2 linked regions of the Homo sapiens genome follow. The protein of the gene in region 1 purifies or fractionates together with the protein of each later gene. This does not show direct contact. Each region holds a gene or a part of one and is shown on either strand. Other genes may lie near its edges.

Evidence for each region.
Region 2: the proteins of SLC2A11 (region 1) and DNAJC18 purify together in Homo sapiens (affinity purification with mass spectrometry; one large-scale study listed by BioGRID and IntAct). This does not show direct contact.

The regions. Positions count from the first base shown.
Region 1 is NC_000022.11:23,867,875-23,871,374, reverse strand, and holds part of SLC2A11 (solute carrier family 2, facilitated glucose transporter member 11), read right to left. Parts: intron 2,895-3,500; coding exon 2,734-2,894; intron 1-2,733. UniProt on the Homo sapiens protein: Facilitative glucose transporter.
Region 2 is NC_000005.10:139,426,026-139,429,525, reverse strand, and holds part of DNAJC18 (dnaJ homolog subfamily C member 18), read left to right. Parts: intron 1-842; coding exon 843-988; intron 989-3,168; coding exon 3,169-3,354; intron 3,355-3,500.

The DNA.
Region 1 (3,500 bases):
GTGCAGTGGCACAATCTTGGCTCACTGCAACCTCTGCCTCCTGGGTTCAGGTGATTCTCCTGCCTCAGCCTGCCGAGTAGCTGGGATTACAGGCGTCTCCACCACCATGCCCGTCTAATTTTTGTAGTTTTAGTAGAGATGGGGTTTCACCATGTTGGCCAGGCTGGTCTTGAACTCCTGACCTCAGGTGATCCCCCCGCCTCAGTCTACCAAAGTGCTGGGATTACAGGCAGGAGCCACTGCACCCGGCCTGTCCCTTTTTCAAAAGATTTGGTTGGACAAAAAGTCTTAGATGAAGCAGAATTTGAAGACTGGTTTCAAGGAGGTACGGGGAAACACTAAGTGGGTGAATCTTTTAAAATTAGCCCAGAACCTGAAAATATAGCTGGGCGCGGTGGCTCACGCCTGTAATCCCGGCACTTTGGGAGGCTGAGGTGGGTGAATCACCTGAGGTCAGGAGTTCGAGACCAGCCTGACCAACATGGAGAAACCCCATCTCTACTAAAAATACAAAATTAGCCAGGCGTGCTGGTGGGCGCCTGTAATTCCAACTACTCGGGAGGCTGAGGCAGGAAAATCACTGGAACCCGGGAGGCGGAGGTTGCGGTGAGCCGAGATCACGCCATTGCACTCCAGCCTGGGCAACAAGAGCGAAACTCCGTCTCAAAAAAAATAAAAAATAAAAAATAAAAAATAAAATAAAATTAGCCCAGAACGTGAAAATATACATAAATATATTTCTGCTTATCAGAAGCCCCCTCCCACTACAAAGAGGCTCTTCATAAGCAGATGGACAATATGACCCTCTATCTGTAGATGGCATTCAACTGCCTTCCTTGACCATCCCGGTGCTTACTCAGTTGGGTGATAAACAAAGCAAATAGGGTAGCAAGGACAGAAAATGCACATGGGCTGAACAATAGGGGCTTCCTGTCACCAAGATGGTTGTGTTCCCCTACACAACCAACCCTGAGCACCCAACAATGGCAACACATTTCAGAGCTCCAGTCAGCTGCTGAATGGAAGAACTACATCCCCCTGTCCTGGGGAGGGGAACAGACATTTGCTTTAATTACAATAGGCATACATGCTAAACTTGAATTTTTAATTTCTTCCTTTCATGCTTATGCCAACTGTACCAGGTATCATGAGATAGCCGCGCAATAGTTATTACCTCCGTCTTCTTCGTGGGAAGAGCCCCACTTTTGTTTGCGACTGTTCCCCTACTCCCCACGGTGCAGATATGAGCCCAGTGGTCTAATCCAGTCTTGCTGATCCAGTGCTGGTGCTATGGTTTGAAGGTTTGTGTCTCTTCCAAAATTCAGGTTGAAATTTAATTTCCAATGCAACGGTATTTAGAGGTGGGCCTTTGGGAGATTGATTAGGCCATGAGAACTCCACCTTCATTGATGGGACTAGTGCTTTATAAAAGGGCTGGAGGGAACTAGGCAGGCTCTTTTTGCCTTTTGCCCTTTTGTCTTTCACCATATGAGGACACAGCATTCGCCCTTTCTGCCATGTGAGGACACAGGGACAAGGCACCATCTTGGAAGCAGAAAGAGTAGCCCTCACGGTACACTGCATCTGCTGGGTGCCTTGATCTTGGACTTCACAGCCTCCAGAACTGTGAGAAAGTAAATTTCTGTTCTTTATACATTATCCAGTCTCAGTTATTTTGTTATGGCAACAAAAATAGACTAAGATTGCTAGTAAGCGAGCTGTTTTGAGACAGGGGCTCACTGTGTCATCCAGGCTGGAGTACAGTGGCACAATCAAGGCTCACTGCAGCCTCGATCTCCTGGGCTCAGGTGATCTTCCTGCCGCAACCTCCCGAGTAGCTGAGTCTACAGGCATGCACCACCATAACTGGTTAATTTTTTTTTTTTTGAGATGGAGTCTTGTTCTGTTGCCCAGGCTGGAGTGCAGTGGTATGATCTTGGCTCACTGCAACCTCTGCCTTGCGGGGTCAAGCGATTCTCCTGCCTCAGCCTCCCGAGTAGCCAGGACTACAGGCGTGTGCCACCACGCCCTGCTAATTTTTGTATGTTTAGTAGAGATAGGTTTTCACCATGTTGGTCAGGCTGGTCTCAAGCTCCTGACCTTAGGTGATCCACCCGCCTCAGCCTCTCAAAGTGCTGGGATTACGGGCATGAGCCACTGCACCCAGCCCATTCCTAGCTAATTTTTTGTAGAGATGGGGTCTCACCATATTGCCCAGACTGTTCTCAAACTCCTGGACCCATGCAATCTGCCCCGCTCAGCCTCCCAAAATGCTGGGATTATGTGGGTGAGCCACCATGCCTCACCAGGCCTGGCTTCTAAGAACTTCTTTCATGCTATGAGCTGCCCCACTATCCTTCCAGCTATTACATTTTTGATTCTGTTATCAGAGTCAGTTTGTATTCTTTGAAATCCAAGAACTGCATTAGATATGCAGGAGGAGAGTGAGGCCCAGGAAGAAAATAACTTGTTTAAGGTCAGTTAGCACTTGTTGGCAGACATGAAATTAGAAACCAGGAGTCCTCCCTCTCTTGTAGCACAGGACTGTTTGCTCTACCAAACCCTTGAAGACGTGTCTTGCAAGGTGAAACTCCAGGCAGAGTAAGAGGCTGGATGAGGAGCTGATCTGGGCCTGGAGCTTGCCGGGCCTCTTCCTTCTTCCACATTCCTCAGCCTGCAGGCTGCAGCGCTCCTCATTAAAGGGCATTCAGGGGGTATGCAGGAAGCACTTACCTTCCCAGCGTGATGGCCAAGGGACCTGCAAGCAGTGCTCCAAAGAGGCCTCCCAGGGGATACAGAGACACGATGAGGGACCACATAAGCAGGACTAGGTGATCGGGCAGTGGCTCTCCAGTACGCGCCTGCCATGTCTCATTGGTGAATTCCTGAATGTGCTGTGGACAGAAATGCCAGTCAGCCTTCTGGGGATGGTGGCGTGGGGGTGCTAGATGAAACAAGCCTTCTCCCCAACAGGGCTCCATGCCTCTGCAGAACAGGCAATGACAACAGGCACCGTGTCTTCTGAGCTCCCCCTGGAGCAGGAACCAACTCGCCTGAGCACCTCCCTTGTGCAGGGCACCATGCTGGTTCTTTCATGGGCAATATCTCTCAGAGCCTAGCACTGGACTCGCTCCATTTGCCCCTCTCTGCGAAAACACTATTTCTCTCTACTCACACAATACTCCTGACAGCAAATGTGTGGATATTTTCCCACATCAAGCAATTCTCTAACTCTCCGGACACAAGCTGGGTGTACTACAATGTAATCCCATTCTGACACTATCCACCTGGAGTTAGCATCAAATCCCACAAGTCAAAGGGCTCCATTCCACAAGACTGTCCCCTCTTCAGATGCCAAGTGCAACTCCTGCACTTCTGACCAACTGGCCATCAATTGGGGATTCCTAGGATCCTTTCTGTGGGTTTGATAATTTGCAACAATGGCTCACGAAACTCAGGAAGGCCCTTTACTTACATTTACTGGTTTGTTATGAAGGATA
Region 2 (3,500 bases), on another chromosome or scaffold:
AAACTTCTAATGATGGTTATCCCTGTGGTGGGAAACTGGGGGACAGGGAATGATGAAGCAGGAAAATTTTTACTGTATAAACTTTAGTTCTGTTGGCTCTTTTTCTTCTATCATGTGTATGTTAACTTTTTAAAAACACAGTTTAGCCAGGCACGGTGGCTCACACCTGTAATCCCAGCACTTTGGGAGGCCAAGGTGGGCAGATCACAAGGTCAGGAGTTTGAGACCAGCCTAACCAATATGGTGAAACCCCATCTCTACTAAAAATACCAACATTAGCCAGGGCTGGTGGCGCATCCCTGTAATCTCAGCTACTCGGGAGGCTGAGGCAGGAGAATTGCTTGAACCTGGGAGGCAGAGGTTGCAGTGAGCTGAGATCGCGCCATTGCACTCCAGCCCAGGCAACAAGAGCAAGACTACGTCTCAAAAAAAAAAAAAAAAAAAAGCAAAAAATACAGTTTAAAAAGATAGCCATAGGAAAAAGAGAGAAAAAATTATAAACAAACAGGGTGATTAACTGTTTCTTCTGGCTTTGCTGTCCTGTAGTTCATCTCTCAGGATCTTAGCCTGAACCTTGGTGTAACAATTAGCATACTTGTTCTACTCACTTGCAGGGATATAGGAAGAGTAAATAGTAGATGTAAAAGTACTTTGAAAGGCATTAAGTTCTGGGTGGGAGAAGGACATTGTTAATGAATTTGAATGTTTCATTAACGTGTGCACTAATTTTCTTATAGGTTTGTTTTGGGTCCCACAGATTGGAGGTAGGATCGATGTATTATCTTGCAATTAGTTGTACAAAAGGGACCTTTATAGACATACATGCTTGTGATTTTTTTTAGGATCAAGAAATGCAGAAATTACTATGAAATTCTGGGAGTTTCTCGAGATGCTAGTGACGAAGAGCTTAAGAAAGCTTACAGAAAACTCGCCCTGAAATTTCACCCTGACAAGAACTGTGCTCCTGGAGCAACAGATGCTTTCAAAGGTCTGATCCTGAACCAATGCTCAATGGTGCCCTTGTCATGGTTGGTCATAATAAGTTGCTTTTAGCCTTCCCCATAGTTGTTTTATAAGGCCATAAGGAGGGTTTTTTCCCCCTGCCACACCTCTTAAATAGTGATAATCAGCATAGCTCCCACTTGATTTTACCTAGGCTGGAGTGCAGTGGTGACATCTCAGCTCACTGCAACCTCCACCTCCCGGGCTCAAGTGATCCTCCCACCTCAGCCTCCTGAGTAGCTGGGACTACAGGTGAGCACCACCATGCCCGGCTAATTTTTGTATGTTTTGTGGAGATGGGGTTTTGCCATGTTGCTCTGGCTGATCTCAAACTCCTGAGCTCAAGTAATCTGCCCGCCTAGGCCTTCCAAAGTGCTGATATTACAGGCGTGAGCCACTGTGCCCATCCTCCATGATATTTTAAGAAATATATTCTTCAGGCTGAGCGCAGTGGCTCACACCTGTAATCCTAGCACTTTGGGAGGCTGAGGTGGGAGGATTGCTTGAGCCAGAGGTCAAGGCTGCAGTGAGCTGTGATTGCACCACTGCACTCCAAGTCATTGTTACAGGCAAAGATCTTCAGTGAATGCTAAAACCATTGAGTGCTAGGTAGTTGTCGCCTATGGGGTATTCTTGCCAAAATGTTTGACCTGAATCTAATAATGAGGAAACAATCAATATGAAACATTCTACAAGAATACTGATCTGTTCTTCCAAAAAATTTAACATAATGAAAAACAAAAAAGGTGGGACAGTTTTAGCTTAAAAGAAACTAAATGCTATACTTGATCTTGCATGGATGCATTGGATGATAATGGACTGATGTTAATTTTCTTAGCTGTGATAATGGTGTTGTGATCACATAGGAGAATGTCTTTCTTCTTGGGAGATATATGTTGAGGTATTTAGGGGCAAGGTGACGTAATATCTGTGGCCTATTTTCAAATGGTTCAGCAAAATAAATGTATAATTATTACAATACATATGTACATATGTATATATAGAGTTGTAGGTAACAGAGTGGCAAGGCAAACATTTAACAATTCCCCAGGTAAAAGAATCATGAAGAAATACTCTTTCTGTGTTTCTGACAGTGTTGACTGAATTACAGGTAGGGAGTGCGGGATGCCTTAAAAGATTTCTTTTTTTTGAGGTTTCTATTGATTGGTGCTACGGATTGTATGTTTAAATGAAATTGGGCAAGGTTTGCACGTCTGTACATAGAAAGGAGACATGTTGGTAAACATATGTAACTATTCAGCCTTTGAACCCTCCTTGAGACATTGGAAATACATTTCTTAATTTCAGAAAATATTTGTCTAAAGTAAACTGAAATAAGACTATGATGAAGACTTTGTTTTTAGTCAAGCAGGAAGGTTTCTACTAAGATTGTTTCAGAAGAGAATTCAGGAAATTTTTTGGACTACAAGTTAAAATATCACTACTGATGTGTGAACTGTTTCCAACATAAACTATTGCACTCAAGTGAAATAAGAACACTTTTTTGGCCAGATGCAGGGCTCACACCTATAATCCCAAACTTTTGGAGGCCAAGGTGAGAGGATCACTAGAGGCCAGGAATCTGAGACTAGTCTGGGCAATGCAGCAAGACCCTATCTCTAAAAAAATTTTTTTTAAAGTAAAGAGCACTCTTTGTGTGTGTGTGTGTGTGACAAAGTCTCACTCTGTTGCCCAGCCTGGAAGGCAGTGGCATGATCTCGGCTCACTGCAACCTCCCAAAGTGCTGGGATTATAGGCATGAGCCACTGCACCTGGCCAGAACACATTTTTTATGAATGAGAGTGCTGACCAGTTGGAGAACATTTCCCCAACATGCCTGGGACTTGTGGTGACTGGGAACCCGAACTGAGGGGGGCTTCCTAACTTCTAGGACAGCTGGGATGACTACAGGACTGTTGATTGGGAGTTAACTCACTGCAGCAGAAGTTCTTAATTCCTGTGATTCCAATGTTGTTGTTTCTGGCGATCAGGGAAAACCTGAAGGGCAAGCACTGTGGAGAACTTTCTAGGCCCAAGCATCTCTTCTTGGGCCCCTGCGAAGTTGTCCAGCACGAGTCACCTCTAGGCTCTTTGTCACTGCTGCTGTGATCACTCTCAGCCATAGCAAAGACTGTGTCCTCATGTGCTGGTTCTTGTTGGTTGCAGCAATAGGAAATGCATTTGCAGTCCTGAGCAATCCTGATAAGAGACTTCGCTATGATGAATACGGAGATGAACAGGTGACTTTCACTGCCCCTCGAGCCAGACCTTATAATTATTACAGGGATTTTGAAGCTGACATCACTCCAGAAGAGCTGTTCAACGTCTTCTTTGGAGGACATTTTCCTACAGGTTAGTCTCCCCAAATTATCATTCTTAAACATATTTCTTTATTTATGGCTCTCAGCAAGCTCCTGTTTGAAAATCTGAATAGAGGTACAATGGTATGATGGAAACAGCAAGGATCTAGAATCAGTTGAGCAGGAGTTTGAGGCAAG